2 separate regions of the Homo sapiens genome follow, and region 2 is linked to region 1. The links come from fine-mapping of genetic effects on gene expression. A gene starts in region 1. The other region holds a variant in brackets. All regions are shown on one strand. Distances are between the middles of the regions. Region 1 holds the start of FAM111B (FAM111 trypsin like peptidase B). Region 2 holds the start of FAM111A (FAM111 trypsin like peptidase A).

The links.
Region 2: its variant is fine-mapped to the expression of FAM111B in whole blood (INTERVAL, PIP 0.95).

Annotation. Positions count from the first base shown.
Region 1 is chr11:59,103,496-59,115,148 of GRCh38, reverse strand. It overlaps FAM111B (FAM111 trypsin like peptidase B), which reads right to left and starts at 7,912. Exons shown (of 4, transcript NM_198947.4): 1 at 7,853-7,912; 2 at 6,437-6,481; 3 at 5,443-5,609. The coding sequence starts at 5,523. It overlaps LOC105369315 (a long non-coding RNA gene), which reads left to right and starts at 8,424. Exons shown (of 3, transcript XR_007062680.1): 1 at 8,424-11,653. RefSeq lists enhancers at 6,744-6,793, 7,934-8,023.
Region 2 is chr11:59,131,961-59,147,853 of GRCh38, reverse strand. FAM111A (FAM111 trypsin like peptidase A) reads right to left here and starts at 4,998. Exons shown (of 6, transcript NM_001312909.2): 1 at 4,908-4,998; 2 at 4,550-4,771; 3 at 4,159-4,357; 4 at 1,998-2,027. FAM111A-DT (FAM111A divergent transcript) reads left to right here and starts at 5,046. Exons shown (of 4, transcript NR_110184.1): 1 at 5,046-5,239; 2 at 7,687-7,897; 3 at 11,573-11,797; 4 at 12,266-13,882. It also overlaps the pseudogene LOC100422399. RefSeq lists enhancers at 3,303-3,412, 4,781-5,230. The variant C/TTCTC (reference allele first, on the strand shown) is at 5,940.

The sequences.
Region 1 (11,653 bases):
CCTCTTGTCTGATGAGGAAAACCCAGGCATGTTCCTTAGAGAATTCCAAGTCTAATGGAAGGGACACAGGTACTGATTAGTGAGTCAACAAGCACTAGACCTATTGGTCAGTCAACAAGCACCCTCCCATCTCTGAACCTTTGTACTTGCTGTTTTCTCTATCTTCAATGTTGTTCCTCTAGATATTTCCATCTAGGACTCACCTCCTCACTCCTTTCAGGTCTCAGATATCACCTTATCAGAGAAGCCAATTATCATCACTTCCAAAACAGCCTCCGCCATTCTCTTTTCCCTTCTGCCCATATCAAAACACACACACACACGTGCATGCACACACACAAACACACACAATTTATTTTTCCTTTCTCCCTCTACAGTGTCAGCTCCAAGAGAACAAGGATACCACTGTATTCACTGGTATATCCTTGGTACCTGTGACGTACCAGGCACGTAGGTTTGCAAGAAATGTTCATTGAATAAATGATCAAAGTGATTGAATGAATATCTACTATGTACTCACCACTGTCCTGGCCAATTAGAGACAAGGAAGAAAAAGGCGAAGTTCCTGTCAGTGCTAAGGTGCTTGGGTTTTAGGGTCAAAACCTACTTGTCATTTCTGCTCCCTCTCTGGCCTCCACAGTTTAAGCCCTACATTCTCCATCTCTCTTTTCCTTCACACCTCTCATCCACTCCATCCCCTCCTCTCTGCCCCTTCAGCTCCCAGTCTCAGGCCACTGCAGGCCCCCTCCTCTTTAGCCTGGATGTTTTTGGAATAGCCTCCACTCTCAACTCTTCTATCCCTTCAAGCATCTTCCCATCCCCTCTTTTCCAAGGCCCATGGGGCTAGAGTGTTCTGGCCCCTGTCCACCCCTCCCTCTGCCCCACCTTCTGCTGCTCAGCTCCTCTCCCCTTGGTCCCAGCTACAGTGATCACTCAGGCCCTGGACAGGAAGCCTTAGCCATTCTCAGGGCTTGTGCATTCACCATTCTGTCTGGCCTTCCCTTGGGTGTCTTCAGGGCCACTTCAGAGGCCTCTTGACTTCCCTAGCCGGAGCAGCACTCCAAGGCACACACTTGCCACTTTCTGTTACCTTTGTATGTTCTTGATCCACTAGCGAAAACTTTCTATTTGTCTGTTTCCTGGATAATCTCTTTCACTCTTTAAAATGTAAGGTTCACAAGAGCTGGGACTCTGTCCTTCTTTCACATGCCTAGTCCCTAAAGTAGAAGCTGGTCAGTAAAGTTTGCCGAGGGGCCAGGTTTCAAATGCATTCTGAACAAATGCCTCCCCTCTGTTTTCTGTCAAATTGGAAAACACTTCCCTCTAGGTGTGGTGAGACTCCCATAAGATGTGTCTAATGTGCCGGGCAGACTGTTGCATCTGGCATACATAAGTCCCAATAACTTATGATCTTGACCATCCAGTTTCCAGGGGACTCTAAGTCTGGGGGACGCTGATAGAGACGTGACTCCATCTGTGCAGAGCTTTTGTCTGGGGAGGGAGATTCCAGTGCTAGAGGTTTCTCTTTTGAGGAGTTTATGTAGGGTGGAGGAAGCAAGGGTTTCTCGTCAAAGGGGCAAGACATACTCCAGAGACCCAGAGGTAATAGCAGCCACTCACAGTTCTCTGGACAATCTTAAAGCTGCATGATGTCAGGATGACTAACCTCTGTCACTTGTGCCTTGTACTTCTGATCTTTCTAGTTCTCACCTTGTCTGGTGGCCTTGGAGAGAATAATGCACCAGTCACATTGCCCCTTCAATCACCCACTCCCTGCTCTGCCTTCATCCACCAGGTTTGCCTATTCTCCCAGGTACCCCACAGCAAAAGAAATTAAACAAGACCAAAATAAATGGAGAATATATCTTGTTCAAGATTGGAAGACTCAACATGGTTAAGATGCTAATCATCCACAATTGTGTTAATTTTTTTACACAACACACAATTTACACAAACACACAAACTTTGATCCAGATATTGCACCATACAAAAAATAAATAAAACTTAAAATCAATTGCAGACTAAACCTAAAACTACAACTCTGGAAGAAAACTAGAAATGTTTTGTGATCTTAGATTTAGGACAGTTCTCTGATGTAAAAGCAAAAGCATGATCCACAAAGAGAAATATAGAGAAAGTGGACTTCATCAAAGTTGAAAACTTTTCCCTCCCGAAACAGGAATAAAAGGATGAAAAGACAAGCCACACAGAGATAAAATATCAGGAATTATCACAAATATTATGAGAAAAGCAATATGACAAAGGACTTGTTTCCAAAATATGTAAAGCCCTCTCAAAACTCAGCAATAACTAACAAGTATAAAATGGGAAAAATATTTTAATAGACACTTCACCAAAGATATGTGGATGATATAAACACATGAAAAGATGCTCAAATCATGAGTCATAGTGAAATACAAATTAATACCACAAAACGATGCCATTACATACCTATGAGAATGAATAAATCAGAAAAACTTTGTGTTGACAAGAATATGAAACAACTGGAACTCTCACACATTGGTAACGAGGATGAGAAATCATACAGCCATTTTGTAAACATTTTGATAATTTCTTATAAAATTAAAGTTATGTCATACACTTTCCATGACAGCAATTCCACTGCTAGGTGAACCCAAGAGAAATGAAAACTAATCTTCATACAAAAACCTGCAGGCAAATGTTCACAACAGCTTTATATACAAAGTCCCCAAACTGGAAACAATTCAAATGTTCTTAAGGGAGTGAATGGATAAACAGATTTTGATACATTCACACAGTGGAATGCTACTCATCAATAAAAAGAAAAAACCTATCAGTGCATGCAACACTCATGAATCTTAAATGGAATGTTCTAAGTGAAAGAAGCCAGACTCAAAGGGTATGATTCAGTGTATGTTCCATTTATATGATGTTCTGGAAAAGTTAACACTAGAGTAATGAACAGATTAGTGGTTGCCAGGGACTGGGATGAATAGGGCACAAGTGGGGAGAACAGGAAATTATATAGAGTGATGGAACCACACAAGAAATTATTTAGGGTGATGGAACTGCTTTGCTTCTGGATTTTGGTCATGGTTACATTACTGCAGGCATTTGTTATAAGCCATTCAACTGTATACCAAAAAGACTGAATTTTACTGTATATGAAATACATAAATTTAAAGGAAACAATAAAAGTTAAAGCCTTTCAAATAATCTGTAAGACAATTAATTGGGTGTGGGGGTTTTTGTGTTCATTTCTATCATCTTTTTTTGTATCTTCTACTTTTGCCACTTTTTCTGAATTTATATTCCCTTGCTTTGTTGCCTCCTTTACTTTGATTTTTCCCTCTCATTCTATTTTCTAGACGAACAGTTTGGCAGTTTTATACTCTAGTTCTGTTCTATAATTGGATGCCCTAGACTAGTACTGCCCAATAGAATGTCTGCAGTGACGGAAATGTTCTACATCTGCACTGTCTAATTCCACAGCCACATGTGGTTCTTAAGTACTTGACACGTGATATAACTGAGAATTTGTACTATTGACCTTTTTCATTATTTGATTTTAGTTAAGTTGAATTTAAATTTAAATTTACATAATCACATGTGATTAGTGGCAATTGTCTTGAACGAAATAGCCCTAATCATTTTAACATTAATATTTAACTTAACAAAGTCTTAAGTGAATTGAATAACTCCTCCTAAGCAATACAAAGATAAAGTCTGTAAACACATCTCCTTTATTTACAGAAGGAAATCCAAAAACCTACACATGGAATTCAAAGAAAAAAAAGATACTGCAGCTATTTTCCAGAAAGCTATTCTACCTCTCTCCCACTTTTTAGGAGCCATACACGTATGGAAATGAATTCATGACAGCTTAAGAATATCTATATGTGCCCTCTCAGTCACAAGGTTTTGTGTTGAAATGGGTGAGCTACTTAAGTTGGGACAATTAGATGGCAAAGAGAAGTTTCCTCAGGAAACCAGGATAGACTCATTATAGGGAGAGTAAAGCATCTGATATTACTGCAGCTCTATTTGTCACTATGCAGAAAGCCAGCCAGGGGATAACATGAAAAGCAGAACACAGAGACTGAACACACAAACAAGTCCTTAAAGAAACTGTATACCACTGAATTAAGAGCTCAGCTGAATTCTGGAATGTCCACTCATGTGAACCAGCGAATCCATTTTATTGTTTCACAATTAGAAAATATTTTTACTGGAAATGTGGAAAGCTCTTATTGATATAAAGCCTACTGTGATCTTGGCACCATACTACCTTACCAGTATAGAAAACAGTATTTGCCTACCATATTCTTGAATTCTCCTTATAAAGCATCAAATGCAGCTATCCTGTTCCCCAAATATGTTTTCCTGTGTACACGACTTTACTTAGGCCATTCCTTCATCCTTGATACACTAGTGAAATGTTATTCATTCTTTTTAAAAAATAACTTAGTTTTAGACATACAAAATGCATAATTAATGTACATAATTAATGTATGCAACTTGATGAGTATGGAGATACATTATCACCACAATCTATGCCATCAACCTATCTATCACCTCCCAAAGTCTCTTCCTGCCCTCTTATTATTTTTGTAATTAGAACACTTAACATAAGATCTATCATTTTAGCAAGAACTTGAGTATACAACAGTGTTATTAACTATAGGCACCCATGCTGTACAGATCCCTAGAACTTATTCACCTTGTATAAGGAAACTTTGTACCCCTTGACTAATACCTCCATTTTTCTCTATTCCCAGCCCAACAACCACTTCGACACCTATGAGTTTGACAATTTTAGATTTATTATTCATTAATAAATCATTTCTCATATGACGCTGCTGTAGTTTCCTAAGTCTGAATTAAGCATTCTTCTCTCTGTACTCTAAAATCACTTGTTTATGTCTCAATTTTGTATTATCATTTTGCATATTTTGAGCAAAATAGTGTGGGTCAAAAACCAGTCTCTGCAGTCTGATGGACTAGGTTTAAATCCTTGCTCTGAAGTCCATTACTTCTGCAACTATAAGCAAGTTGAGCTTCAGTTTCTTCTTTTATAAAATAAGTATGATAATAATACCTACTGCATAGTTCTATTAAGTGTTAAATGAGATAATACATATGATGGGACACAATTCTAGGCACACAGTGTTTCCTCAGAAAACATTAGCTAATTATTTTTGCCTGTCTACACTTTCCAAGACTTTAAGTGTCTATATTGTTTGTTAGTCATCTTGTTGTCTTAACATACGTTTAGCATTGTTAACTCTATCATTTTGCTTTCCACAAGCACTTATGTGTATGAGCTCCCCAAATATATTTTAAACTACCTAAGAGAAGGGCTTATAACGACCATTGTTTAAGAACTTATCTCCAAGATCCTCATATGGCACTATAGTTAGACTATCACTCCTCTGAGGAGTTGTAAAAAAGTAGATATACCTTTGAAACTTCAGGTCTAGTCCTCTGGTCATCTTCCATAGCGCTAAATGACTTGTTTTCTTCAGTCTTCATGGAATTCATGATGAGTTCAAAGAGAATGTAACTAACTTCTACTACTCGATAAGATGGAGAAACAAGGATTGAATTTATTCTGCCACCTGAAATGTCTAAAAAAACCAAAAAAACAAGATCTATGAAATAACCACTTTCAAACACTGGAGATCAGGTGGTGTGGGACCTCATCTCTGATATCTGAGAAGAAAATCATATGAGGTAAGCCCTATGGCTATTTAGCTTACTGTATGGAGTTTCCAAGGCATATCTTAGGAAGGAGAAACAGGCAGAGTCTAGTAGTTTCCCTGATTTGAGAAGACAAGCAAGGAGTTTTGGGAGGCCAAGATGACTGGAGCTTGTATGACAGAGTACTAGGGAGAAGACAGCCACAGGAGCACACAGTATGAGAGATCTGCAGTGGGTATCCCTTGAGATTTCAGCTTGGTCAATGCATGAGTGGAACGAAACTGTTGAAAAGGAACAGGAAAAGAAGTACCCAAAAGAAGCAGATGTAACAATTTCTGAGGCTCATACAGGACTGTGTATAATTTCAATTCCCAAAAATCCGACTAGAAAACTTCATAATTCATGAAGTATCAGGGAGACTACTCTGCAAGGTATTTCTTCCGCAGTAGGACAAAATTAGCCCTAGTTCTGCTCCCACCTAATAAATAAAAGCAAGCTTCGAAAGTATAAAATGGTTTCCATGTAAAATATGAACATACTAGAACAAAGCTCAAGAATATTGATAGGAATGTAAAAATTTCTGGCACCCAAAGTTGTGAAATTAACAAAGCTTGATATCTAATAAAAAAATCAGCAGGCACTTAAAAAGTGGATAAATATGACCCATAATGACTAGAAATATCAGTGAATAGAGACAGGTCCAGAAGTGAGAGAGAAGATAGAACTAGCAGTCAGAAACATTAAAAGTCATTACCTTGAATTTCTGGCCAAAATGGAGTAACAGGGACTGGATTTCCCCCTAGTATGAAAACAAAACAAAACAAAAAAGAGCAAAACATATGAAACAATGGTTTGCAAGGAACTGGACATTATGCAATTAAGGACAGTGACAATTGAAATGTATCCTATAATCCACTTTAGCAGACTACCTTGAGGAATTCCAGGCCAGTGTGGCAAGGAAGGGCAGCAAGACAAAACCAGTAGGAATTCCAGATTTAAGGAGACAAAGCTGAGAGACTAAGGTGACAAGAGGTCACAGGCCAAAGACATGGTGGGAGACCTGCACAGAGAGGGAACTCTGGATATATGAAGAGGGTTCCCCTAAAGCATTCAGCTGTGTACTGATCAGAGCAGCAGCTGAGAAAACTTTCCAAGGCCAGGAAAGAACCACCCTAAAACTGTCATAGTCTAACTTTCCACCAACCCTCTCCCTGTAACCCTTTTAGGGATCCCCATTTCCTCATTTCTAGATTAAGGACTTTGGCTCAGATGAAACTTTTATTGTTCGTGTGAATTGGTTCCTCTAAGCTTTTTAAAAAGGATTCCAGATCCCACCCTCACAGACTCTGATTCAGTATGTCGGGGTGTGGCTATGGAATCTGCATTTTTACCTGCCTCACTCCACAACCCCCGCCTCAAAGGCGCACCAAGTTCTTTGAACAGCTGCCTCTGTCACCGCAGGATGACCTCAATGCTTTCCTAAAGCCCCAGAACCTATGAAGGTAACCTGTGCTTGAAGCTGTGCTTGCTTACAGAAACAGAGACTGGATGTCAGTAACCACCGTGCTACAAGATGGGAAACGAACTTAGAAGCGCTACCCTAACCTGAATCCTTGCTGATTACCATACCTCAATCTGTGCCTCGGGGAGAAACGCAGCTTGCTAGGCACATGTAGTGTTGGGTGGCAACAGAAAATAGGAGACTGCCACACTCAGCTGTTTCTGGAAAGCCCCGTCTCTTTCCAGAAATCCTTGCTTTCCAACTACCTGCCCTAAAAGACCTTAAGAAGCACCCTCACACTACACTCCAGGCACTTTGAGCAGGAGCTCTCCTACTCCATTCCTTGATCAGTGAATAGTTTCTGCTCTGCTTAACCGAACCTGGTCTCCTTCTATGGGCGCGAACGGCACCGGGCAGGGAAAGGACCCACCAGGGTCAAACGACCCTCTCGAGATTCAGGAACACCCAGATGATCTCTAAGTATCTCTTCAGGAGTACAACTCTTGGCCTTTGAAGCTGAGACAGGGGGAAGGGAATTACAACGGGCGGCTGCCCAGCTCCCCATCCAAAACCCCCTTGACTTTGGGCTGAGGTCCTTCTGCCTACTGCCCTTGTCAGCCATCCCCCTAAGAACTCCAGGTCCGACCCGGGAAAAGAAAAACCACTCACAGAACCGGAGAGTCTGTCCACACGGTGCAAGTGCCCGTCAGTGCCCGCCGCTCTGGATTTGCAGGTGCTGGAAAGACTGCTCTTTTATATCTCTCAGCTGAACTTTTCCCGCCTAGAAGGGCTCGCCCGTGCGCGGCAGGAGCCTGGGAACTGACACTCTCGCTGGCCAATGGACGAAGAGTCTCTGGAGGCTGTTTTTCTCTCATTGGATGTAAATGACTCATCTCTCATCCACTGTGGAAGCCAATTATCATCACTCCAGACAGTGATTGAAGGGAAGGACCGGATGAGCGCGCAGCGCGCGCAGGTGGGTCTGAAGGCCGGGCCGAGGGTACTGCGCGCCAACCCGCCCACCCTCCCTATTTGTCTGGATGACCCTTCCCGGTCTCAGTGATCCCCTCCCCGGCACCACTCAGTCCACGGCCAGTTCCCGTGTCCCAGGATAAACTAAGCAATCACCGCCCTGCTCTTTCCCGCTCATGGGCGTCCCCTGTCTCCCAGTGGAGGCTAGGGAGGAGCTGCGCGGTAGCTGGGCGGAGTGGGAGGTGCCTGGAGGTTTCGCGCTTTCTCCGACTTTTGATTGCCAGCGCGCTGGCGGGAGCCGCGCGCTGGCGGCAGCTGCAGGGCGAATAGCCCGCCAAGTTGCTTAGGTGTGTGGCAGTTGCTGCCTTTCTGCAGCGGCGGGGTGGGCGACGGTGGCGGGATGAGCATCCAGGCGGGATCCTTTGGCGGCAGCAGCAGAGAGAGCTCCACCCGGATAATGCAGAGGCCCAGGCTCCAGCGGACTTCAAGTCCCAGAGCAGGCTGCACCCGCGTCTGCGTGAAATCTAAAGGGACTTGGCCTGATCACAAATGAGCTAACTTCGCGGCGGGGCTGGCGAACACAGACAATGCCAGCCTGGAGGAGGCAGTGGCCAGCACTGCTTAGGCCTCGTTCCCAGGACGCGCATTACTGAGTGCTGTACTTTACCCTTTGGATGAAGGCTCCAGAGTACGACCTCCCCAAACTGATATCAAAGAAGTGCTTTGCATGGGGCTTGAGAAAACATCTTACTGTTTAAGAAAAGAACGTCTTACTGTCTGAGAAGCTGAATAGAATGAGATGCCATCAGTATTGGGTGTTATTTTTCAGAAGTTGCTCAAAGAAGGAGAGAAGATGGTTAAGTGGGGATGGAGACAATTATTTTGTAACTCATAGAAGGACAGATGTTTATGTAACAGTTGATAGTTTTGGTGGAATAATCATGAGCATGTTTCTGAAATTAATATAAAATATACAGAGACCCCTAAAATCACTGCTTAAATTACACGGGTCTTGAGGTGTTCGGAAAGAGCAAACTTTGGAAGTATAATTGTAAAAATAATGTCATACAGACAAAGAGAAGAGAAAACTTAACGACAGCTTTCTTAAATCGCTGTTATTCTTGAATCATCTGAAAGCAGTACACGTGCCTGGCACCAATATACATCAGAGAGTAAATCATTGCACAAGGAGACTTGATCTTCTTTTTTTGTAGAATCTGGAGGAAACAAATCTATGAAAAGCAAGAGATGGTAGAGAATGGTGTTGTCGAAATTGCCTGACATCATTGGAGATAGAGAATTTGCCCTGGTAAAAGGTGCTCCTCAGGGAGGAGCATCTGCACATTCCATTAGCATAAAGCCCCTGGTGGGCCATATGAAGAAGTCTGGATTTTGCTATAAATGTGAAATTTATTTTAAATGGAGGATTTGAAGCAGGGGGGTAATATACCCTGACATATTTTAAAAAATCACCCTAGCAGCGTTTGTGCGGGGTAAAGACTCTGGGAGGACAAGAAGAGATGTGGAAGGGAGAAGGCAGCTAAGAGTCTGTCCCAGGATTGCAAAGATGTTGGAGCCCGACCTCAGATGGTAATGGTGGAAGTGTTAGAAATGGCTGGATTCCACATTTATTTTGAAGGGCCAGCCCTTGGAATTTGCTTATGGATGTTCCATAAATAAGAGAAACAGAGGGCTCAATGACGATTCCTGGGCTTTTGACTTGAGCAACTAGAAGGATGGGGAAGTCTGAGGACAGAGATGCTGTGTGTGTCAGGAGTGGGGTGTGTGTGTGTGTGTGTGTGTAAAATTCTACTTTTGACATGTCGAATTGGAGATGCTAATCCACTCCAACTGAAAAATAAGGAGGGAAGTGGACATTCAACACATGATGACAGGAAGACAGGGAAGCTGGGACTTATGATGGTAACAATGTTGGCCATTAACTGAGAATTTTTTTTTTTTTTGACACAGAGTCTTGCTCTATTGCTCAGGCTGGAGTGCAGTGGCATGATGTCGGTTCACTGCAACCTCCACCTCCTGTGTTCAAGCGATTCTCATACCTCAGCCTCCTGAGCAGCTGGGATTACAGGAGCCTGCCACCATGCCCAGCTAACTTTTGTTTTTCTAGTGGAGATGGGGTTTCATCATGTTGGCCAGGCTGGGGTCGAACTCCTGGCCTCAGGTGCTCTGCCTGCCTCAGCCTCCCAAAGTACTGGGATTACAGATGTAAGCCACCACGTCAGGCCTAAGAAATATAATTAAAGTACAGGGAAAATTAAAAGAAAGTTCACAGAGAGATATCACGGCAAATGATAAATACAAAAGCCTGCCTTGTTTCCCATACCCCCTGTGTCTTAGATTCCCTGAATTTTACCTCCCAGTGGACCGTGCTTGTCCCTTTGTAATGGCGCTCCAAGCAGCACTGCTGCACACCAATTCCTGAGCTTCCCTGCTTCTTGAGCTTAGGAATAGTTGTGCTTCTATTTCCTGTTTATTTGCTCATCACTGGAGTAGCAACTGAACCACACAATTGGGATAAGTACCCTGAGGCCATTTTGGGAGTAATCTTCCATTTCTTCCTTACGTATAAAACTGCCCCTCACAGAGAAACTGTCTAGAGTGATAGGTCCAGAGTAGAGCTCTAGCTTTGCTTTACCCTTTGCAGCTGTGCTCTGAGAGCTTTGATGCAATCCCACTGCAACTGGAATCAGTGACAGAGTAGGGATGCTCAGGGAATCTGTTGGGCCACCAAAGAAAACTCACTTCTAGCTAATGCTTATCTGGGGCTATGGAAGTTGTCTAACATCCCTGGGGACAGAGTGTTTGCCCTGAAAAGGAACATTCCCTTGGCACAAAGTATCCTGTTGGCTGGATTTTATTATAAATGTGACAAGAATGCTTTTGGCCAGTAACTGGTGGTTGGGTCAGTTTGTGTTTTGTAAACCCATAAAGAGGAAAAGGCTCTCATGTGGTTGGGAGAGGTGGGAATGGATCATGCACTAAGGTCAGGTCTGGTGAAGTTAGGGAATAAGGCCAGTGTTTACGAAGAGTGATTCCTTCATGAACCCCTAAAAGATGCTCTGGAACACTACCAGTAGGATGATGTCTGTATGTAGAGGTGCAGATGACATGTTCTCGGAATACAGAGGAAGGCACCACTGCCTCTACCTTGAGAGTATATCACAGAGAAAGATTTATATTTGGACTAGATGGCTGAGAGATGAGTAGGAGTTTGATAGAAGAGAGCATGGAAACTGGCTGTACAACGGCAGAAAGGGCAGGAAAGGCTGAGGAGAATTGGCCTCTGGGGGTGGGTTATAGATATGGGCCTGGGCACCACATTCTGGAGCTTGCAATGGGGTATGTAAAAGCTTAGATGGGATGGTCTTTTCCTCTCCTCCCATGGGTTCATAGTTGGCCCACCTCACTCACTGCTGCAAACAAGCTGCCCCCATTTGAGAGAGAGCTGGAGTGGGGTCTCTAAGCCTCCAGCAACCA
Region 2 (15,893 bases), 31 kb before region 1:
CCAGGGAGATTAAACTTTTACTCAAGGTCATAAAACTCAGAGAATATACTTTCAGGACTTTTTATTATGAACAATTTATTAGAGAAAAAATGAGAGAATGGTATAATGAACTTCTACATACCTATCACATAGTTAATTGTTCATTTTTTTGCCAATTTATGTAACAGTGAAACAGTAAAAGAACTAACATAAAGAACTCTATTTTTGTTCACGGGGTCTTTATCCATTCATGCATGGAGGGGAGGTTAATTTTAGAGCAGTGAGATAATATGCAAAAAAAATGTAGTTTTAAAAACTAGCTCTGGGATTAAAGGGAAAGTATGTAAACAACTATGGATTGTTAAAAATTTACAGGAGGGTTGTGACCTGGAGAACAAATATAAATATAATCTTTAGATAACTTCCATTTGACAAGAAATACAGGGGCTAGAACATAAGCTAAACAACAACATGTAGAAGCAGCCCAGGAAATTAACATTCTATAGAGACAACTTATCTGTTCTCTTCAGCAAATCAATGCTTGGGCTCACTGGAACATCAGGACAAAGACATTCCCAACCTTCTTGGATCCTTGATGGTGCTCAGATGTCTCCAGTCAATGGTCACCTCTTGATCGTAAATCCCTTCTCTTCCCCATGCCCTTAACATAAAGAGCCTGAAACTTGTACTCACTTAAGAGGCTACTTTGGGTTGCTAGTCTGCCATCTTCTCAGTTTGCTGGCTCTCTGAATGAACCTGCTTTTCCTCCCACCAACTCTCATCTCTCATGTTTGGCTTTGAGGTGTGAGTTGCCAAACCCGGGTTTGGCTACCCTTACACCATCCTTTTATTTTACTAGATGATTTATGTTACAGCTAGAAACATCATGACATTTAAACGCTAATGGTCACTTCCCATCTCTAAAAATTACATAATTTTTCTTTTATAATCACAATACTGATTTATTCATACCAAGATCCAACTGAGGTACACAGTTTCCTTTATATGTCTTATAAGGCTCTTTTATTCTAGAAAAAGCACTGATTTGTTGAAGAGAACAGAGAAATTGTCTCTATAGAATGTTCACCTCCTGGGTTGTTTCCTCATGTCATTGTTTAACTTATGTTCTAGCCCCTGTATTTCTTGTCAAATGGAAGTTATCTAAAGGCTATGTTTACTCTCGTAACCATTCCACTATGGAACAAGAGTCCTGGCTTTCTAGTTTACTGTCAGTCATTGACTAGGGAAATTCATTTAGCCTTTCTGAGCCTCAATTTCTTGTTTGTAAAAAGAAGCAATGATTCTAAATGAGATAATGAATATGGAAGTGCTAAAATAATGTTAGAACTTATAAAACTGTCTGAGTTCAAATATCAGGTAGCCACTTACTAGCTGCATGACCTTGGGCATATTAATTAACTATTCTTCCTTCATTTTCCTCACCTTAAGGTGGGAATCAACCTTGTTATAAAGATTAAGAAATATATTGTGGTCTGGGTGCGGTAGCTCATGCCTGTAATCTCAGCACTTTGGGAGGCCAACGCTGATGGATCACTTGAAGTCAGGAGTTCGAGGCCAGCTTGGCCAACCTGGTGAAAACCTGTCTCTACTAAGAATTAAAAATTAGCTGGGCATGGTGGTGGGTGCCTGTAATCCCAGCTACTTGGGAGACTGAGGCAGGAGAGTGGCTTGTACCTGGGAGGCAGAGGTTGCAGTGATCCGAGATCACACCACTGCCCTCCAGCCTGAGGCCTGAGCAACAGAGCGAGACTTCATCTCTCTCTCTCTCTCTCTGTCACACACACACACACAATATATATATACACACATACACACACATATTATATATATTATATATGCAATCTATCTATATATACAGTGTGTGTAAATATATATATATATAGAGAGAGAGAGAGAGCATATGCAAAGCCTTTAAAACACTGCCTGTATGTAATAGGTCCCCCAGTAAATAATCAATAAAAAGGTCATGTAAATGTTATCAATATCAATACACTCACCACAGGGATACTTTTTAAACAGCAGAGAACCTAGGAAAAAAAATAGAAAATGTACAATTGCGGAACTGGGCTATGTTGCAACATCCCTAAATGCAAGAACTTGTTGCCCAACTATTAAGAAAATCTAGGGATTCACTGTGTCTGTTCATGATGTCTCATCTTACGAAGTTTGAGAGAGGATCCGGGTGCTTTAGGAATGATTAATAGACACAGACAAAAAAAGGAAAATAAAATGGGCAGAAAGAAACATTAATTTTGCATGTACTTGAGCAATCACAGTGGAAAGGGGCAAGAGGTTAAGAAAACACTCCAATATCCTCCGTCTCCCTACATTGTTTTCAGTATCCAGGATAAATCAGATTATATCAAAATATAAAGTGCTCTTAGCTATCCTATACCAACCCCTGTTTTATACTTGACATCAAGGTTCTACTTACCTAAAGAACTTGCTTGACTTCCTACAGCAAAGGGATAAAGCAGTGCAGCCTGGGGCCCATGTCCAGCCCACCTGACAGCTCCCCTTAGGAATTTCTCTGTCTCTCAATCTCTCCTTCCTTCCCTCTCTCCTTCCCCCTCTCTGCCTCTCTCCCTTTCCTCCCCTCCTTCACTCTCCCTCTTCCTCTCTCCCTTTCCTCCCCTCCTTCACTCTCCCTCTCTTCCTGCTTCTCCGCACCCCAACCCCCACTTTCTGCCTTTCCAGGGGCAAGGGCAGGGGTCGAGGCCAACTCTAAGCCTCTTCCAATCCTACCACGCCGCCCCGCTCCCCCCAGCACACAAGGGGACTTGCAGCACTACCAAAATAAAACCTGTGTCCTCCCGGCTCCCCAGATGGGTGGCGCTGTCAGTCCCCGGCTTCCTGACACCCAGCTCCTTCTCCTCCCAGCCGGGACTCGAGCCCGCCGCGGCCGCGCCCGTGACCGCGCCCCGCGGAGCACCCCAGCGCCCTGTGTGCTCACTCACTGCGCGCCTCGCCAGCACTCGGCCTGGAATCCAGCGCTCAACGCAGTTCCCGCTCGTATTTGAGGAAGCAAAGGCTCCAGAGCTCCAGCTGGGCGGGAAACGGAGCAGGTGGGGCTAGGGGTTTGAATCGCCCGCCTTTTGGGAAAAGGTTGTCTGCGAACCAATTGGTTACTTTCTTTCACTTTTAAATCAGCCGTGCCTCTTCCGGCCTAAACCTCAGGTAGCTACAGCGTGCAGTACTTGACGCTGTGTTTATATCAGACAGCACTGCCAGTCTGAAACAAAACTTTCTGAATTTCCTAATCCCCAGAGCCAGCGTGAGAAGTAGACTTGAGCCTGTTCTCTTCCCTTGAACTTTTCTTTTACACGAGTACAACAAAAAACAAGAACAGAGACAAGTCGTAGTGTTGCTAGTGATAAGGCAGATTTTTCACCAAGCCTAAAAAGCTTTTAAAAATCTGGTCCCATAACCAAAGGGGTTCCTAGAAAGATTTCTTTATGCCTAGGGACAAAATAAACTCAGCGCTTGAAAAACTGAGCAAAAAGAAACTGGAGTTCAACCTGATGCAAGATCTACTTTCTCCACCTTTGAGATCAGGGAGAGCCTCAAGAAGGTTGAAGGGACTTCAGGGCACACACTGATTCTGAGTTGAGGGTTGGGAGGTTGATTAGGTCTTGCTGGAGCCTCCAAGAATGTCAAATGTTGGCTCCCAGTAATATCAAAGCAACCTGTTGATAAGACAAAGCTAAGTTTCTTGCTCACTTAGGTAATGGAGAACAATAACTTGACAGAATTTAAGTGGTGTCTCAGAGAGGGAAGAGCAAGTTTGGGCTATATGTATTGAGATTTTGAAGTCCCATTGTAAGTCTAATATTTAATGAGGGGAATTGGTTAGAATTGAGTCAGCTACGGGTAAAAGTTTAGGATTGGTAGATAAAACAAGGCTAGGATTTTGAGGTAAAGGTTCAAAGTCTTAGAATGTAAACTGTTCTTTGATGTTTTCCATTGAAGAGTGGTTGGATCTTTGAAGAAGATACTGGATTAAGCAATAAAGATATTTGCAACTTTCCGGTCCCTGGCAAAAGTTTCTTGAAATAGTAAATGTATGTTGATGAAAATAATGGAATAAGAAGTCAGGTTAATGTAGTTGGCAAGCTATGTGAGTGTAGATGGCTTCAGTTCTCACAATAGTGAACATACCTGATAATGTACTCAACATTTGTCACTTAGAGTATTTTATCCTGGAAAGAAGCGTAGTTGGGAAAACGCACTTGAGATGATGTTTGCTGCACACAGAATTCGGACACAGAGATGTGAATCTCCTTAGGAACCATTTTCATAAAGTTAACATTGGGTCTTAATAGACATCAGTTTTTAAAAATTAGAACAGGCTTGGGCACTGCAAAAGAAAGACACATCCGTTCACTTGGCTGTTCTTTTTAAGTTTCCAGGGAGAGCGTCAGTGCCCCTTTCAACAATAAAAGCCCGCAGGAGTGCAGATTTTATTTACCCTGTCCCCACCAGCATCCTGCTGCGGCCAATGAATCCTGGCAAAACTCCAGGTCAGCCCCAGAACCAAAGAGTAACTCACCTAAGAGGAAGGTCCGTTCCCACCAAGTCTCAGACGCCTGAACTCGTGATTTTTAGGGACTTTCCCTTCCAGTCCCTTGGAATCCAGCACTTTGGTTGGAGAACAGAACTCACTTGGGGAATGGCGCGTCTGGCCAATGGAATGAAAGATACTGGAGTTTGTCTTTTCTCTTCAGGCAGCAACTCACCTACTTCGGAAGCCGATTGGCTGCGCTGGGGACACCTGTTGGCGTGCAAAAAAGAGTGGTTGGAAAGGCAAGGCCGAGGGGGCGCGCCTACCCTACCCACCCACAGCGCTCCTCCTTGACGCCGCGAGCAGGACCCTGTCTCACTGACCCCGTGCCCACGGCGGTCCTTGCCTGCTTCTATTCTCCCGGTTTCCCCAGTCCCGAGTATTGGAAAGCGAGAGCGAAAGCGAAAGCATCCTAGTCGCCGGTAGGCTGGCCTGGGCCGGGCTGGAGAGGGAGCAGGAAATAAAAACTCGGGTGTGGGAGGAGCTGGGACGCTGGCGGCAGAGCCACTGTGGCAGCTTGAGTCTCGCGCGCGCAGGAAGCGGAGGTGGAAGTTGGGGCGCAGGAATGTGGCTGTCCCCGCCTGTAAATCATGGTTGGGGAGGAGTCGCGGAGGCACCAGGCTGGGGTCTGCAGCGCGCCATCTGCTGCAGCACACAGGAGGCGCTGAGGCTAGTTGGGTAAGTGGGGAGATTTCAGGCACTTCCGAGGGGGCGGCATCCCCAGCAGGTGGGATAGGCCCGGTGACTAGGACAAAATCACGAAGAAGCCGCGGATGCAGGAAGAGTAAACTCCCTTGTCATAAATCGATTCTCCAAACGTTCATCAATATGTGGAGACGTTTATGATAGTGATGAAGAAGATGATATGGGCTCTAGGAATATGCATCTCAAAGCTGATGATCGAAGAAGATTGGAGAGGGTTTTCAAGGCAGCCTGCTGTTTAAGGACCTGCATTCTGAGTAGATGTGTATTGGAAAAGGCGATTACAGTCACAAAGGGGACAACTTTTATGCAATTGACAGAGGACTATATGATGTATATAAACAGATAGGGTTGAAAGGTGTGTTGGTAACTACAAAACACATGGGAATTTGAAGGAAGGAACTGGCCTTAAATGCATGTACAATACACCAAGAGAAGCTAAAATTACTGCTTCATCTTCTGTGGGTTCTTTGGGGTTTGGATAGAGTAACCTTAAAACATATTTGAATGCTGACTTTTTCTATGAGACTCACTTTTGGAATCTGTGCATTCCTACATTCACAAAGGGTAATCACAGCTAGTACCCAGCATCCAAACAATAGCAGCCAATAATTCTAATCTGGAGAAAATTTTCTTTTCTCTCTCTTTCTCTCTCTCTCTCTCTTTCTTTCTTTCT[C/TTCTC]TTTCTTTCTTTCTTTCTCTTTCTTTTTTTCTTTTTCTTTCCTTCTTTCTTTCTCTTTTTTCTTTTCTTCTTCATTCCTTCCTTCCTTTCTTCCTTTCTTTTTTCTCTTTATTTCTTCTCTTTCTTTCTTTCTTCTTTCTTTTTTCTTTTATCTTTCTTTCTTTCTCACTTTTCTCCTTCCCTCCCTCCCTCCTTTCTTCCTTCTTTCTCTTTTGCCTGTTTTACATTTTAATGTGTAAGCAAATAGTGATTAAAGGACAATAGGCTTAACATTTTCTAAAACATGGGTGTTCAGAATTGAATATACTGATAAAATTTGTTTCCAAAAGGAAGGATTATATACTAGGTGGGAGTGTAAATTAGTTCAACCATTGTGGAAAACAGTGTGGCAATTCCTCAAAGACTTAAAAACAGAACTACCATTCAACCCAGCAATCCCATGACTGGGTATGTACCCAAAGGAATATAAATCATTCTTTCATAAAGACACACGAACACGTATGTTCCTTGCAGCGCTGTTCACAATAGCAAAGAATCAACCTAAATGCCTATCAGTGGTAGGCTGGATAAAGAAAACTCAGTATACCATTGAATACTACACAGCCATAAAAAATAATGAGATCATGTCCTGTACAGGGACATGGATGGAGCTAGAGGCCATTATTCTTGGCAAACTAATGCAGGAACAGAAATCAAATACTGCATATTATCACTTATACGTGGGAGCTAAATGATGAGAACACATGGACACGCAGAGGGGAACAACAGACGCTGGGGCCTATCGGAGGGTGGTGGATGGAAGAAGGGAGAGGATCGGGAAAAACAACTAATGGGTACTAGGCTTAATACCTTGGTGGTGAAATAATCTGTACATCAAACCCCCATGACATGAGTTTATCTATATAGCAGACCTGCACATGTACCACTAAACTTAAATAAAGCTTTTAAAAAAGTTTTCAATCTACGAAGTTGAGATTTACTAGAAAGGTTATTCAAATGACTTTGACATATTGAAATATTAGTGCACAAGGAGATAATAAAAAGTTATTATTATAGAAGATATAAAACTTGTACCACCTAATATCTGTGCAACTAAATCTACTATGTACCAAGATATTTATCAATATTCTTTCTGAAATTTTTATGTCGTTTTGTATAATTTTAATCATATTTCTTTTAAAAACATTTATGGCATGATAAGTTATGTGTTGGCTTATTGCGGAAAGGGCCTAAAATAACAATTCTTAAACTTTATATATATTTGCAATGAAATATATTTTGGCTTTAGACAATAGGAACATAACCTTTTTTTGGATGAAAGATTACTGTCACATTTTTTCTTCATTATCTGACATCTTTGTCATTTTCTTAACTTATATTACTAATTAAAGTTCCCTACCTTTTCAAAAGAAAAAAAGTCTAATATTGACATTTATTTATCTGTAGCAAACTTTAGCTATTGTTTTTTCTACTAATTTCAGGCAAAAATGAAGTATTAATTTCAGTTACAAAATATAGCTTAGTAAGATCTAAACCAAATAAAATTCACATTCTAAAGACTACAAACAAGTTTTAAAAAGATATTTTGGCCATTAAACTTATTTATTAAATTTAACTTTTGTCTTCTAAGAACCAGAGTTCTTACAATTACTATGAAGCTCCTATTCTATAATCATAGCCTGGGTTCCTTGTCAATGCTTCATTAAACAGGCTATTTTTTTCTTTTTTCTTTTTTCTTTTTTTTTAGAGACAGAGTCTCACTGTGTCACCCAGGCTGGAGTGAAGTGGCATGATCTTGGCTTACTGAAACCTCCATCTCCCAGGTTCAAGCGATTCTCATGCCTCAGCCACTTGAGTAGCTGGGACTACAGGATTTCGCCATGTTCCCCAGGCTGGTCTCAAACTCCTGAACTCAGGCAGCCCGCCTACCTTGGCCTCCCAAAGTGCTAGGATTACAGGTATGAACCACCGCGCCCGGCCAGTTTCTTAATTCTTAGACTAAATCTACGGGGGACACACTTTTGCCAACATTAGCTGCAAAGGGTTTTTTCCTCCACACTTAAGTCACGGTCAGTAAGTAGTTTTTTTTTTTTTCCTGTGTTTTTGTTTCCTTGTTTGTTTTTATTTGGGAAAATGCCTCTTTTGATAGTAATGAATTATTTTTTACACGCAAGGTCAAAAACAGCATGGAGTGAATTTTCTTCCACACGTATACACCCTTTTTTATTCCTGCCTCTGGCTGTAAATAGTTGCACAGTTAAAAGCAGGATGGACTTAACGGAGTATCATTTATATTTATAATTGCTGTATTTGTAATTCTGCTACAGAAATGAATTCTGTTATTATAATCAAAGGTTACACTGTTATCTGAATTCTTGAAAAATATGTAAAAATACTGCTCTTGTGGCTTTTCATAGGTTTATAGTCTATAAACACTAATTTTAATCAATAATTCATATCATTTATGATTAATTTTATGAGAAACAGATAACAATAATAGACATAGGCATAATTATTTTGTGACAGCTGGTGTGTTTGGAGTATTTACTATCACCCTTAAATATGATACCCTGGCTGGAAAACATTAATTTGATAACATACCTTTAAGAAATTATATAAAATATGCAAAAGCATAACCTTATGCACATTTTTAAAACAAGGCCTTCTTGTAGGAAAAAGATTACACCATGCATGAAGATGTTTTGTTTTCTATCATTATTTGAATTTATTTTAAAGGCCATTACTGCTCTGTGTGTGTATATATATATATATACATAAATATACATATATATACACACACGTATGAAACCAAAAATTCCAGGTTCATCATATTATACACAGATTTTCTTTTTTGTTGCCCTTATTCTTAATCATTGAAAGCACTGAAAATCAATACCTGTTTGATAAGATGTGCAATCAAGTTAAAAATATCACAGTTATTATATATAAAACTTTCTTAAGATTACTTTTGTAGTAACCTTTAAAAGGGGTGGTGGTGGTGTGGGATCCCTTGGCAAAGTCCAACTTGGCTGCTTAACTGCTTTCATTGGCCTGGCTAACACTTATGTCTGCCCACGGAAGCAGCAGGGAGTGTGTAGAGGGAAATGACCTCTGCTGCTGTACTGCTTTGAGTTCCTCTCTGAGCTTGGCATTTACATGTGTCTGTTTCATTTAATACTCTCAATAACCCTGTGGGGAAGGTGAGATTATCTTCGCCATTTCACAAAAAGCTTTAGCAAATAATTGTGCAGAAACATCCTTATGAGGATTTGTATTCCCATCTGAAACTAGAAGCCAAACTTATTCTATTGAATGATGGCTGCCTCTCAGATCTAACTGCAAAAAGGCACAGTGGCTTACTTCTTCCTAGTATAATGCTTTTTCATTAATCCAATAATCTATTCAAGGTATAAATTTCGGGTGGCAATTTACAAGATCCGGTGCCACATTCTATGAAGGGTAAAATGTTGACCCCTGCCCTCAAATAGGGAAGACAGAAGAGGTACACAAATAATATCATTTCCACATGGTTTCATTCATTTAAGAGATGTGTTAATTCCTACTTTGTGCCAGGTATTGTACTGGACATTGGGGAACAGAGGTGAATGAATATGATTCTCACATTCATGGACCCAGAGCAGTTTAATGCAATATTGTATCTAAGCCTAGTGCTTTTCCAGGTCACGTCTCATAGCCTATCCAATATATTAAAATGCACACACATTCTATATTAAATACACGTTTGCTGTTTAATCTAGTTTGAAGTACTTGGAGAATTGGAAGAACCAGTGGCCGAGTGTGGAAAATTGTTCTCAGATCTTCCCCCTTCCCTGTACACACACTGGTTGCCAGGTGCCTTTGCAGTTGCTCTCCACCCCATCAATGTTGGGCTTTGGGCAGTAGAATATAGACAGAATTAACACTGTGCTGAGCTCGACCCTGAAAGCCACTGCGTCTTTATGTTTGCCTCTGTCCTGGTTCTGTCGTTGCATGTAAAGAACATGCCCCCGCTAATACTGTCTCATAGAGGGCATGAGCCTAAATGAGGTAGCCTATGGGATGGTCGTGGAGATGTACCTGGCACGAACGCTCCGGAAATGGTATGGCGCCTTTGCCATTGTTACTTCTCTTACTACTACCATGTTACTCTGTTTTGATGGTCTAGATGATTGTGCATGATTTTTAGGTTTTGGATAAATATTACCAAATTACTCAACTACTAGCAGGAAAAGGTGATGTTCACTTCAATTTGAGGTCAAAAGTGTTGTGAGATCGGGATTCCTAGGATCCAGATCATAGACTCCAGCTCAGTCAAAGACCTGGAAGGCAAAGAACCTCTATGAGAGTAATGCCTTCATAAGGAGCCTTCGTTTGGACTCTTAAGGGGGTGTCGGCCCCATCAAAACTCCAGAGGCTGCTAGCCTTCCTCCTTCCAGAAAAGGGAATAACCACCGCGCCCATCCTAGCTGTGGCCCGAGGTTCGAGCGCCCAGGGCCGCAGGGACTAGTAGGGGCACGCGGTCTGCAGTGGCCTCCATCTTCCTGGTACCTCAGGAGGAAGAAACCCGCCCCGCTTTCCTCCAGACCTCACCGCCCGAATGACCCTCCAAGACCCTCTCAAGGCGCCCGCTGTGCTCCTTAATTCGGAGGCAGCCCCTCCACACCTGTGGGTAATTCTCATCAGGTGGGAGGAGGGACTGAGAAAAGAAATAAGACACAGAGACAAAGTATAGAGAAAGAAAAGTGGGCCCAGGGGACCGGCCCTCAGCATACAGAGGACCCGCACCTGCACCATTCTCTGAGTTCCCTCATTATTTATTGATTACCATTTTCACTATCTCAGCAAGATGAATGCGGTAGGAGGGCAGGGTCATAGTGAGGAGAAGGTCAACAAGAAAACGTGAGCAAAGGAATCTGTGTCACAAATAAGTTCAAGGGAAGGTACTATGCCTGGATGTGCACATAGTCCAGATTTATGTTTCTCTCCACCCAAACATCTCAGTGGAGTAAAGAATAATAAAGCAGCATTGCTGCCAACATGTCTTGCCTCCCACCACAGGGCGGTTTTTCTCCTATCTCAGAATTGAACAAATGTACAATCGAGTATTATACCGAGACATTCAGTTCCCGGGGCAGGCAGGAGACAGTGGCCTTCCTCTTATCTCAACTGCAAGAGCCTTTCCTCTTTTACTAATCCTCCTCAGCACAGATACTTCAGGGTGTCGGGCTGGGGGATGGTCAGGTCTTTCCCATCCCATGAGACCATATTTCAGACTATCACATGGGGAGAAACCTTGAACCATACCCAGCTTTCCAGGGCAGAGGTCCCTGCGGCTTTCCACAGTGCATTGTGCCCCTGGTCTATAGAGACTGGCGATGAATTTTACCAAGCATACTGCCTGTAAACATTTTGTTAACAAGGCACATCCTCCACAGCCCTAGAGCCGTTAAACCTTGATTCCATACAACACATGTTTCTGTGAGCTCAAGGTTGGGGCAAAGTTACAGATTAACAGCATCTCAGGGCAAAGCAATTGTTCAGGGTACAGGTCAAAATGGAGTTTCTTATGTCTTCCTTTCTACATAGACACAGTAACAGTCTGATCGCTCTTTCTTTTCCCTACAACCTCACAGCCCAAATGACCCTCCAAGACCCTCTGGAGGCACCCGCAGTGCTCCTTAATTTGCAGCTCTACAGAATGAGACCAGCGTGGCAGCCCCCTTTCAGGACAGCTCCCGAGACGAGACGCGAGAGCAGCCCCTAAATCTCACCCAGCAAAGCCGTTTCTTCCTAACCGGGCTGGGGAGTGCCGCGCGCTGCCAGCAGATGGCGACAGAGGATTAGCCTGCGGAAACCGGGTAAGGGGAGGGCGGAGCTGAGGTGAGAACCCACATCCCTCATGCCCAGTGGCAGCAGGACGTGGAAATGGTTTGCCCAGCCCTCACTTCTCTTGGACAGAGCTTGAGCCTTCTGGGAAACTGCTTTTCCCTGGCTGAGTGATTAGCGGGGGTGTTAAGTTGGGAAGCTGGACGTTCACTTCCATGTGCTCCTCTGAGAACCATCTGTTGGTCTGATGGTGCTAGATCTGAAGCTGGTGAGCCTCTTGGGGCGGCCTCAAGGGCTAACAAGATCTCAAATGCCCTTCTCTCCATCATTTGTGGTATCCTGGATTATTGTGAAAATGTATAGGGATTCCTGGGGAAGAGTTAAGGATTAAAATATAAAGGTTTAAATATAAATAACTTTATATATATATGTTTTTTCTTGTAAACCAATATGTTATATAGTAGGAAGTTTAATTCCTTAACTTTGGTTTTTCTCCCTAGCCTTTTTATAGCCAACAAGAGCAAAAGCACACTGCAATGTCCAAACGAATTGCAGGCGTTTTCTGCTCCCTGAAGCCTGGGAATTAATTTATATACTCAGTCCCTTTTCCCTTGGCTGGCCATTGAAGTAGTTGAACCACAGGATTGGACTGTCCAGAATCATTAGCCAGAGTTCACTGTGAGTGGACGTCTTTTAGTTCTGCTTCAACGCTATAACCAACCTTTACCAAAAGCAACAACAAAACAAAAAACTGCAGAAACCAATGAGTTCTGTTCACAAAGGATGGCTCCTCATGTCATCACACCGGCAAGGAATGGACGAGCCTCTGATTTTTCTCTTCTTGGCTGACTTTACAAGGTTGGATGCAGTCCATGAGGATCATGCAGCAAAGACAGAAAGTGCTGGAGAAGCCCAACCTGCAGGGCCTCACCTTTAGCTGGTTTGTGTGGTTCCACTTCATGTAGCTGTTGGAACACCAGTCTCTCTAATGTGCTCTATGGGATAGCTGTTACCTTCCACTAATTTATGTCTAATACCTATAAACCTAAAGTATCTTTTTAAAAATTTTATTCCGTCTTTTTGGAGGAAATTTTTGTGCATGCCAGATATAGTGTCAAGCATTGGGATTGCTAAGATGAACGTAACATTGTCCTCACCACCCATTAAGTCACAATCTAGTAGATGAGTAAAAGTAAAAAAAAAAATTAAAAAAAGAGTTATAACCATAATACAGAAGTGAACAGGTTGCAGTGGTAGCACAGAGAGGGCTTCAGGGATGCTGTCACAGAGGTGGTAACATTTGAGATATAGATTCCAAATTCAGATGTGTTTGCTGTTGCAAAATTCCAGGGTCTATGTGCCCAGTTCCTGAACATTCCAGTGATAATTTTTACCTAAAATTTAGGTGGCAAATGAATCTTACTATAACCACTTGGAACCACTGTGTTTCTGGTCCATCTTGTGAGGCCCATCTTTGGTTCAGAGGGATGGAGGCAGAAGTCATACGGCAGGTAAGCTCAAGCAGTGATACATGACAGGGCTTTCAGAACTGGGGCCATGAAGAGCAGGCTTTATTTGCATGCTGTTTAAAAACAAGATTTTACAACTGATTTACCCTATTAAACACTTCCATGAATAACTCAGTGGAGATTTATTTGCAATAGTAGGATCAGGTGATTTGAAATCTTTAGTGTGTGTGGTTGTAGCAGGAGGAGTACTGGGTTCCAGCATTTAATAAGAGGACCCATGGTTTTATGAAAATGTCCAGAGATATAATTTTGGTTAAGGTTATACCTCATCTTTGGTTGTACAGTTGTTTCTTTTAGTTTCAGTACAATCTAAAACAGGAAATGTCAATTCACATGGTCTGGTAGAGAAAGAATGACTCTAATGCTCTACTATTCAGGTAGAAATGAAGAAAGAAGGGTGATCACTTCCATGAGCACTGTAAGCCCTTGAATGGGCTTATAGGCAAATACTTATAGTTAAAATATGTAACTCCCATTTTAGTATTGGATAGAATACTGTCACATTTTTTCTTATTAAATCTACATTTTTACCATCTTTCTTGATTGATTTTGCCAATAAAAGTTCCTTACCTTTTTATAAAAGTCAAAGATTGACATTCATTTTTCTGTAGGAAATTTTGTCTTGTAGAAAAAATTAGAAGCCAAAGATAATATAACCTTCCTCCAAAGAGACTTTACCATTAATTTTTGCAAGCAGCTGGGTGGGAGTCACTTGTAGTCCTAGATTACATTAACCTAATTTAGATTGAGGTGATTTCAAATTGACTTGTGTCCCTGTGAAGGCTGAGATATTTCTGGAACATTTTTATTCCTTGGGTACAACAACTTTTTACCCATCCAAAATCCTGTGGTGTTTATTAGGTTTCCTACTAGCTGACAGGCTTTAAACTCTGACTTTTTCCTCCCTCAGCTTCACGATTCGAACTCAAATGTCTGGTCAGCTACTCAGCCATCTCTTCCAAGCTGTCAGGTTTCCCTAAGGTAAGAGCCATACTGATATGGTTTGGCTCTGTGTCCCCACCCAAATCTCATCTTGAATTTTAATCCCAATAACCCCCAAGTGTCAAGGGGGGAATCTGGTGGGAGGTGATTGGATCATGGGGACAGTTTTGCCCATGCTGTTCTCATGATAGTGAGTTCTCATAAGATATGATGGTTTTATAAGGGGCTATTCCCACTACACTTTTATCTCTCCTGCCACCCTGTGAAGAAGGACATATTTTCTTCCCCTAATTCCATGATTGTAAGTTTCCTGAGGCCCCCCAGCCATGTGGAACTGTGAGTGAATTAAACCTCTTTCCTTTATAAATTACCCAGTTTTGGGTATTTCTTTGTAGCAGTGTAAAAACAGATTAATACAGGAAATTGGTACCAGGAGTTTGGGGCACTGCCACAAAGATACTTAAAAATGTGGAAACCACTTCGGAACTGGGTAACAGGAAGAAGTTGGGACAGTTTGGAGGGCTCAGAAGACAGGAAGATGTGGGAAAGTGTGGAACTTCCTAGAGACTTGCTGAATGGTTTTGACCAAGATGCTGAGAGTGATATGGACAACGAAGTACAGGCTGAGGTGTTCTTATATGGAGATGAGGAACTTATTTGAAACTGGAGCAAATGTCACTCTTGCTATGCTTTAGCAAAGAGACTGGAGGCATTTTACCCCTGACCTAGAGATCGGTGGAACTTTGAACTTTTATTAGTCCATTTTCATACTGCTATGAAGAAGTACCTGAGATTGAGTAATTTATAAAGAAAAAGAGGTTTAATGTACTCACAGTTCCACATGGCAGAGGAGGCCTCACAATCATGGTGGAAGGTGAAGGAGGAGGAAAGCCGTGTCTTACATGATGGCAGTCAACAGAGCATGTGCAGGGGAACTGCCCTTTATAAAACCATCAGGTCTTGTGAGACTTATTCACTATCACAAGAACAGCACAGGAAAAACCCACCCCCATGATTCAATTACCTCCCACTGGGTCCCTCCCAGGACATATGGGGATTATGGGAGCTACAATTCAAGATGAGATTTGGGTGGGGACAGAGCCACACCATATAATTCCACCCCTGGTCCCTCCCAAATCTCATGTCCTTACAATTCGAAACACAATCATCCCCTTCCAACCGTCTCCCAAAGTCTTAACTAATTGCAGCATTAATACAAAAGTCCAAATCCAGAGTCTCATCTGAGACAAGGCAAGTCCCTTCCACCTATGAGCCTGTAAAATCAAAAGCAAGTCAGTTACTTCCTAGATATAATGGGGGTAGAGGCTTTGGGTAAATATACCCATTCCAAATGGGATAAATTGCCAAAACAAAAGGGCCACAGCCCCCATGCAAGTCCAAAATCCAGCAGGGCAGTCAAATCTTAAAGCTCCAAAATAAGCTTTGACTATATGCCTCACATCCAGGTCACACTGATGCAAGAGGTGGGTTCCCATGGTCCTGGGCAGCTCTGCCCCTGTGGCTTTGCAGGGTACAGCCCACTCCCCCTTCCCCGGCTGCTTTCATGAGCTGGCATGAAAATGGACATTGGGCAAACTCACAGTCTGGCATGAAGCTTTTCCAGGAGCATGGTGCAAGCTGTTGGTGGATTTACCAT